Regions from separate parts of the Homo sapiens genome. Here region 2 is linked to region 1. The links come from fine-mapping of genetic effects on gene expression. A gene starts in region 1. The other region holds a variant in brackets. All regions are shown on one strand. Distances are between the middles of the regions.

The links. PIP is the estimated chance that this variant, and not a neighbour inherited with it, causes the effect.
Region 2: its variant is the best candidate, but not a certain one, in a credible set for the expression of GTF2IRD1 in lung (TOPMed, PIP 0.56).

What each region holds. Positions count from the first base shown.
Region 1 is chr7:74,451,513-74,455,770 of GRCh38, reverse strand. It overlaps GTF2IRD1 (GTF2I repeat domain containing 1), which reads right to left and starts at 1,865. Exons shown (of 27, transcript NM_005685.4): 1 at 1,595-1,865. RefSeq lists silencers at 1,243-1,312, 1,815-2,164 and an enhancer at 3,050-3,569.
Region 2 is chr7:74,489,378-74,493,888 of GRCh38, reverse strand. The region is part of intron 1 of GTF2IRD1 (GTF2I repeat domain containing 1); the gene reads right to left. Among named protein-coding and RNA genes, the nearest start is that of GTF2IRD1, 38 kb to the right of the region's middle. The variant G/A (reference allele first, on the strand shown) is at 2,359.

The DNA of each region.
Region 1 (4,258 bases):
GTGTGGACTTGAGCCTCCCACACCCCAGAGGCAGGATGGGGGTTCCGATACCCTGTCACCTTGGGGCCAAGCCTGTCCCTTGGTCCGCAGATGCCTGCTCAGAAGAGGTCAGAGTCTATCTCACACCCTCCTGGGCCCCAAATAGGGCGGTTCATGACGGCCACCTAACTACCTTATACCTAGCCCCTCCCTGCCAGCAGCCACCAGCCTCCAGCCACCTCCTCCTGCTTAGAATAAATAATCGATGCTGGTGCCCTTCCCCTCTGGAATGACACTGCTGAAATAAATGAGCTGCTTGGGGCACCTTCCAAGTCCCAAGGCCCCGGGCCAGTGCCAAGGAGTCAACAGTCCTGGCCACGGGGCAGCCAGACACACAGAGGCCGACCATGGCAGCGGCGCGCCAGGGTGGCTTCTAGACACCCCTCTCCTCTTCTAAGAGAAACCCCAGCAAATGCCCACTTCTCCAAAAACTGCGGGGGCCTGCCCTCCACTCCCACCCGCCAGGCCCAGGGCCATCCCGGGGTACCCCTTGGCACATTCTCCATCCAAGAGTCAGTGCTCCCCTCACAGGCCCTGCAGCGAGACCCCTATGTCCCAGCACCCTCGCTTCAGCTGGGATGGGGACACAGGAGACTCCCACCGCAGGACCTTGGTCCTGGGAGGTAGGGTCACTAGGCCAGACGCCAGAGCTCCAGCCCCCTCCAGCACTGCCAGGAGGGTGGAACGAACTCTCAGCGGCACAGCGGCCCCCTTCCCTGGGCCCACGCCAGGCGAGGCAGGGTCTCACTCCCTGGCTGCTGGCCAGGGGTGAGGAGCCCAGGAGAGGTGTCAAGCCCATCATGCCCAGGGTACTTAGGATGGGGCGGGTGGGTGTTCAGCACCCTGTGGCCCCTCCTCTGTCCTCTCCACCCATCTGCAGGAACTCAGAGACCACCCACAGACCGAGTATCCCCAACTTACTCCTCTGAACCCTTTGTGGTCCCCCCACTGCCACCTTCTGAGTCCCCTCCACCCGGGATTCAGCGGCCACCACCACACAGGCCAGCCCCCTCCCCGGGGCCGGGGCGGGGGGTCCACTACAGGAACCACCCTGCTGGGGCAATCCTGGCTGGACTGGACTCCGCCTGGGAGTTGGGGGCGCGGGCCAGGGGCTGGCCCAGACCGGGAGAAGGTGGAGGGGGGAAAGGCGGGGACCGCGGCCTTCCCAGCCCCCTCTGCTCCCACCCCGGCGCCCGCCACCGCGGGCAGCGCGACTGACCTCATTCGCCAACTGCAGCAGCCTGCGGGCGCCGGCCCGGGACGCCCCCCACCTCCAGAAGAGCCGGTGGCAAGGAGGGAGGGGGTGACAGCTCCCAGCTCCCGGCCCCTCCCGGGCAGGTGGGGGGCGGCCGTCCCTCCCCTCCCCCCGGGCCCGAATTATAATCCCAGTCACGTGCCTCCCCGGGCACCCAAAAGCCGGCCCCAGCTCCTGTAACACCTTGAGAGGGGGAGGGGCGGGGACCCCCCCCCCCGGAGGCGGAGGGGATCGGGGGCGGGGGTGGGGGAGAAGGGGAGAAGGGCCTCGGTGCCCGCCCCCCGCAAAAGTTTCTCCTACCTTGGAGGATCCCCAAGCGCTCCTGCCAGCGGCGCCCCGGCCCCGGCCCGCGGCCAGGACTCAGCCTCCTGCCGCTGCCTCCTTAATTAATCCGGGAGAATGGGGGAAGGAGAGGCAGAGGGAGGCGAGGACGGCGGCGCGGCGAGGGCGGGGAGGGAGGCGCGGGGAGGGGGCGCGGGGGGGGAATCGGCCGGCCGGGGGGCTGGCGCTCGGCGGCCCCCACCCCCGGCGCGGGCTGCGGCGGAGGGCGGGGCGGCGCGGGGAGAGGAGCGGAGAGCGGGAGCGCGGGGAGGCTCTTTGTTCTGTAATCCCAGTAAGATTGCCAGCCATTCGCCCCGGCCCTAATCCCAGCCCCGCGCAACACCACCCTCCATTGGCTGCCATTTACATACGGGATTAGCCCGCCCCGCGCCCCGCGCCCCTGCGCACCCCCCTTGCTACCCAGCGCCCCTGCGTCCCGGGGACCTGGGCACCGCGGTGGGGAGAGCGCGCCGCACCCCTCGGCCCCGGACCTGCGGGGAGGGGCGGTGGCGCCCTCGGTTCTCCCCCACCAGCGCCGGATTAGAAAAGCCTGGGCGCGCCCCCGTCTACCCCCACCGCTCCCCACCACCACTGGGAGAGCAGCCGGGCGCAGGGGGCTGAAGTTGGAGGGTCAAGGTCACCCAGCTGGAACGCGCGGAGGCCCTGAGTGTCCCGGCTGGTCACTCCCGCCTGGCCCGGGTTCTAGTCCTAAGGCTTGGGCCAGGTACCTCTTACTCTTACAGCCTTTGTCCCCCTCCCACCCCTGAGATGTGCAGGAAGGCAGTGACAGGCCGAAAGTCGCAGCAGAGCCAACTGGACTCTTGGTCCCATCTTGTCTGATGGGACCTCCCTCTGATAGGCTTTTACCCCTGTCCCCCCAACCAGCCCCCCCGCCCCCCGCCCGCCCCGCTCCCACCAACCACACACACACCACAGCAGCGCTCCTACTGAATCAGTGCGCACGCCTCCCATCCGGCCCCAAAGCCATAAATCCTAATTCAGCACAAGGAACACAGTCCTTCCCCCACGTGGTGCCCTGATCCCTGAACTAGACCTTGGCTAGACTGGGCATGGCAGGGAGGGAGGGACTCACCCCAGGCAGGCCCCAACCCCAGGGAGCTTCTGGCTTAGAAGGACAGCCAAACATAGATCGAGAATCTCCCAGGTCCTGGCAAAACCCACAAGGTCTCCCCACAGCCTCCTGGCCAAACTGCCTTTGCAAAGATTAGGACAGTGACAGAAGTTTAGCGTGGCTGACTCCATCTTGCTTCCAGCCTCACGCGCTGGCTGTCTTCACTCATTCCGGGGCATAGGCCAAGCTAACCGGGGGAGGAATTTAGTTTATAGTTCAACTTTGAAACAAGGATGATAATAGTTACTCCTTAAACCTAACCTGCTTTTTATACAAGAGACCAAAACCACCTTTGTAAAACTAACGAAAGGCCGTGAGATTAGGATTATGGGAGGGGCCTGGACGCTGCTAAAACCTACGCATCGTTTTTATAATCTGACTGCTCAGGAGTCATGTGGCGAGAGATCACAAGATTTGTGAGTTCCCCACTTCCTCCTATAGATAGCATCTCTATTGTGGAAACTGAGATTGGTCTTTGGAGATGTTTTTCAGACTTTCGCATTCGGGCAACCGACTGACTCACCTGGACCTGTGTGACTCATGACTCAGCCCATCCTGTGGCCCCCACTCAGAGACCGACTCAGTGCATAAGGACCGTTTGCCACACCCCTGTGATTTCATCTCCAACCAATCAGCAGTACCCATTCCCTGGGCCCTTGCCCACCAAATTATCCATAAAAACCCTAGCCTCTGAGTTCTTGGGGAGATTTATTTGAGTAATAACTCCAGTCCTACTGCTTGGCTAGCTCTGCATTAATAAGACGCTTTTGGCTGGGCTCAGTGGCTCATGCCTGTAATCCCAGCACTTTGGGAGGCGAAGGTGGGTGGATTGCTTGAGGTCAGGAGTTCAAGACCAGCATGGCCAACACAGCGAAACCTGGTCACTAAAAATACAAAAATTAGCCGGGTGTGGTGGTGCATGCCTGTAATCCCAGCTACTCAGAAGGCTGACGCATGAGAATCACTGGAACCCAGGAGGTGGAGGCTGCAGTGAGCCAAGATTCAGCCACTGCACTCCAGCCTGGGTGACAGAGTGAGACTGTGTTTCAAAAATTAGGCCAGGCACGGTGGCTCATGCCTGTAATCCTAACACTTTGGGAGGCCGAGGCAGGTGGATCACTTGAGGTCAGGCATTCAAGATCAGCCTGGCCAACATGGTGAAACCCTGTCTCTACTAAAAACACAAAAATTAGCCGGGCGTGGTGGCAGGCACCTGTGATCCCAGCTGCTTAGGAGGCTGAGGCATAAGAATCGCTTGAACCTGGGAGGCGGAGGTTGCAGTGAGCCAAGATCGCACCACTGCACTCCAGCCTGGGCGACAGAGTAAGACTGTCTAAAAAATTTTAAAAATTAAGAAACATAAAACTATTTCTCGCTGTAATACCATGGTCTCAGTGAATTCTTCCTGTGCAGCGGCAGGAACACCCGTCAGACAATTACACTGGGGTCTCTTCTGGACACACACCAGGAACTTGGTGAGGGTTAACTTTGGCTGACCAGGTCTCCTATAG
Region 2 (4,511 bases), 38 kb before region 1:
AAATCAGCTGGGTGTGGTGGTGCATGCCTGTAGTCCCAGCTGCTTGGGAGGCTGAGATGGGAGGATCCCCTGAGCCCAGGAGGTCAAGGCTGCAGTGAGCCAAGATCACACCACTGCACTCCAGCCTAGATATATGGCTTAGGGAGTCCACATAAATGAGAATAAGGTCCCCTCAGAGGGGACAGAGCCGAGGTGGGTCAGCTGGGATCTTCCATTTGTCTCCTTTACCTGGCCGGCATCTATCACAGGAGAACCTGTCTACTAGAATGGCTGCTGGAGTTTGCCCTTAGAGACCCGAGATAGGCTCAAAAAAATGACCTCCAAAAGACAGCCATGTCCTAATCCCCAGAGCCTGTGTTACCTTATATGGCAAAATCACTTTGCAGATGTGATTAAGGATCTTGAGGTAGGGGATTATTCTGGCTTAGCCGGGTAGGCTCTAAATGCCATCACATGCATCCTTATAAGAAGAGGTCATGGCCGGGCGCGGTAGCTCATACCTGTAAGCCCAGCACTTTGGGGGCCAAGGCAGGAGGATTGCTTGAGCCCAGGAGTTTGAGACCAGCCTGGGAAACATAGTGAGACCCCATCTCTACAAAAAATAAAAAAAAATTAGCTGGGTGTGGTGGAGCATGCCTATAGTCCCAGTTACTCGGGAGGCTGAGATGGGAGGATCCCCTGAGCCCAGGAGGTCAAGGATGCTGTGAGCTGAGATCACGTCACTGCCCTCCAGCCTGAGCAAGACAGTGAGACCCCTATCTCAAAAAAAAAAAAAAAAGAAGAAGAAGAAGAGGTCATGCCAGGCACAGTGGCTCATTCCTGTAATCTCAGTGCTTTGGGAGGCCAAGGCAGCAGGATCACTTCAAGTCAGGAGGACCACTTGAGGCTAAGAGTTTGAGACTAGCCTGAGCAACACAGCAAGACCCCAGCTCTACAAACATTTTTTAAAAATAGGGTAGAGGAAGACTGGACATCCATATAGAAGAGAAGTCCAAGTGAAGACGAAGTAGAGAGAGATTGGAAGATGCTGGCCTTGAAGACTGGAGTGATGCGGCCACAAGCCCAGGAGTGCTGGCAGCCCCCAGGAGCTAGAAGAGGCCAGGAACAGATTCCCCCCGAGAGCCTCTGGAGGGAGCATGGCACTGTCGGCACCTTGATTTTGGCCCAGTGGTAATGATTTTGGACCTTTGGCCTCCAGAACTGTGAGAATAGAAATTTCTCTTGTTCTCATAAAAACATGGGCAAAGGACATGAACAGACACTTTTCAAAAGGAGATGTACATGCAGCCAACAATCTTATGAAAAAAGACTCAATCAACATCATTGATCATGAGTGAAATGCAAATCACAACCACAATGAGATATCATCTCACACCAGTCAGAATGGCTATTATTAAAGTCAAAAAATGACAGATGCTGGGCCAGGCGTGGTGGCTCACACCAGTAATCCCAGCACTTTTGGAGGCCAAGGTGGGCAGATCATGAGGTCAGGAGATCAAGACCATCCTGGCTAACATGGTGAAACTCAGTTTCCACTAAAAATACAAAAAATTAGCCAGGCGTGGTGGCAGGCACCTGTAGTCCCAGCTACTCGGGAGGCTGAGGGAGGAGAATGGCGTGAACCCGGGAGGCAGAGCTTGCGGTGAGCCGAGATCACGCCACTGAACTCCAGCCTGGGCGACAGAGTGAGACTCTGTCTCAAAAAAAAAAAAAAAAAATTAGCCGGGAATGGTAGTGTGTGCCTGTAATCCCAGCTACTCGGGAGGCTGAGGCAGGAGAATTGCTTGAACCCAGGAAGTAGAGGTTGCAGTGAGCTGAGATTGCACCACTGCATTCCAGTCTGGACAACAGAGTAAGACTCCGTCTCAAAACAAAAACAAAAACAAAAACAAACGAACAAGAAAATAACAGATGTTGGTGAGGTTGTGGAGAAAAAGGAACACTTATACACTGTTGTAAATTAGTTCAGCCATTGTGGAAGACAGTGTGGTGATTCCTCAAAAACCTAAAGACAGAAATACCATTGGACCCGGCAATCCCTTACTGGGTATATACCCAAAGGAATAGAAATCATTCTACAATAAAGACACATGCACACGTATGTTTACTGCAGCACTATTCACAACAGCAAAAACATGGAATCAACCTAAATGCCCATCAATGATAGACTGGGTAAAGAAAATGTGGTAGGTATACACCATGGAATACTATGCAGCCACAAAAAAGAACAAGATCATGTTCTTTGCAGGGACATGGATGGAGCTGGAGGCCATTATCCTTAGCAAACTAACACAAGAACAGAAAACCAAATACTGCATGTTCTCACTTATAAGTGGGAGCTGAACAATGAGAACACAT[G/A]GACACAGAGAGGGGGGCAACACACACTGGGGCCTTTCAGAAGGTGGAGGGTGGGAGGAGGGAGAAGATCATAAGAAATAACTATTGGGTACTGGGCTTAATACCTGGGTGAAAAAAGAATCTGTACAACAAACCCCCATGACACAAGTTTACCTATGTCACAAACCTGCACACTTGTACCCAAGAACCTCAAAGTAAAAAAAAAAAAAAAAAAAAAAAGAATTTTTTTTTCTCCCTCACTCTGTCACCCAGGCTGGAGTGCAGCAGTGGGATCTCAGCTCACTGCAACCTCCACCTCCAGGGTTCAGGCGATTCTCGTGCCTCAGCCTCCTGAGTAGCTGGGATTACAGGTGCCTGCCACCACGCCCATCTAATTTTTGTATTTTTAGTAGAGATGGGGTTTCACCATGTTGGCCAGAATGGTCTTGAACTCCTGACCTCATGATCTGCCCACTTTAGCCTTCCAAAGTGCTGGGATTACAGGCATGAGCCACCGCACTCGGCCTGAAATTTCTGTTGCTTTAAGGCACGAAGTCTGTGTGGCCCGTGTTACAGCAGCTTCAGGAAATTAACACTGGCTCCTTCACTGGCTGTACCCCACCTCACAAAGACAGTCCACATCCTCAGCCCCTTGGACACTCAGTCCTCAGCTCAGACCTCTGCAAAGCTCAGGCCTGGGTTTGCTGGAGAGCTCTCCAATCTCTTCCCCCTTGGAAGCGCCACTAGAAAGAGCCGGATTTTTCTGGACACCAGAGAAGCGTCTCTGTGATTCAAGTCTCACTGCCCTATGGACCAGCTGGGGCGTTGGAGCTGATGGAGAAAAAAAAAAATACACCCAACCACGTAAAAGGCAAAGGCAGGCACACACCCCACCCAAACACGGCCCCCGCACCATCCGCTGCCATATGCTTGTTTCTTGAAAAAGAAGCTTGAGAGAACAAACAAAAAAGAAATTTCTCCCCTTCTGGAAGGCGGGCGGGGGGGGGGGTATCCTTTCTCCCCAGCAGCCTCAGCCTCCCTCTGAATACTCCCTCTCTAGTCCCAGAGGCTCCCCAGTGGGGGTAGAGTGGCCTGGGGGTCCTGGATTCCTGCCCTCCCCCACCACCACTGTCACTGTAGCCGGGAAGAACACTGCCAGTCACAGCCCTGGCCTTCCATTCGTATCTGCTCAGGCCAGGCTCTGGGCTGGGCAGCGGGAGGGGGTCTTACACCCAGCCGCAGTGCAGTAGAAGGCAGTCTGGGGTCATGGTTAAGACACCTGGGGTCTCACTGGGCGCAGTGGCTCACGCCTGTAATCCCAGTGCTTTGGGAGGCTAAGGCAGGAGGATCAAGCCCAGGAGTTCAAGATCAGCCTGGGCAGCACAGTGAGACCCCATCTCTACAAAAAAACAAAAAAGTTAGCCAGGTGTGGTGGTGCGTGCCTGTTGTCCCAGCTACTCGGGGTGCTGAGGCAGGAGGATAGCTTGACACGGGAGGTCAAGGCTGCAATGAGCTATGACTGCAGCACTGCAGTCCAACCCAGGGGACAGAGCTAGACTCTGTCACACACACACACAAAAAAAATCTGAGTTCCAGTCCTGGATCTGACCCCAAAAGCTGTCCTCCAAGTCCTCTGCCCCACTCCCTGCTAACAGAATCCCCCCGTTGTGTCCTGGTATCTAAAGATGGGACAAACTTTGCTGGGTTGTCCCAACAACCAGTGCTTGGGGCAGCTGGGCCCTCCCAGTCCCTGGGAGGAACTTTGGTGATTCTCCAAGGCTCAGAGCAAGGCACTCCTTTTCCCCTAGCTGGGACAGGTGTAAGGAGAGGCCAGAACCCAATTCTGGCCACTGAGACATGAGGGACTTCTAGGAGAGCTGTCCTTGCCCTTAGAAAGGAACTGAAACCAGGCCAGGAGTGGTGGCTCACACCTGTCATCTCAGCACTTTGGGAGGCCAAGGTGGGCAGATCACCTGAGGTCAGGAGTTTGAGACCAGGCTGGCCAACATGGCGAAACCCCGTCTCTACTAAAAATACAAAAATTAGCCAGGTGTGGTGGTACATGCCTGTAATCCCAGCTACTTGGGAGGCTGAGGCAGGAGAATCGCTTGAACCCAGGAGGCGGAGGTTGCAGTGAGCTGAGATCACACCATTGCACTCCAGCCTGGGCAACA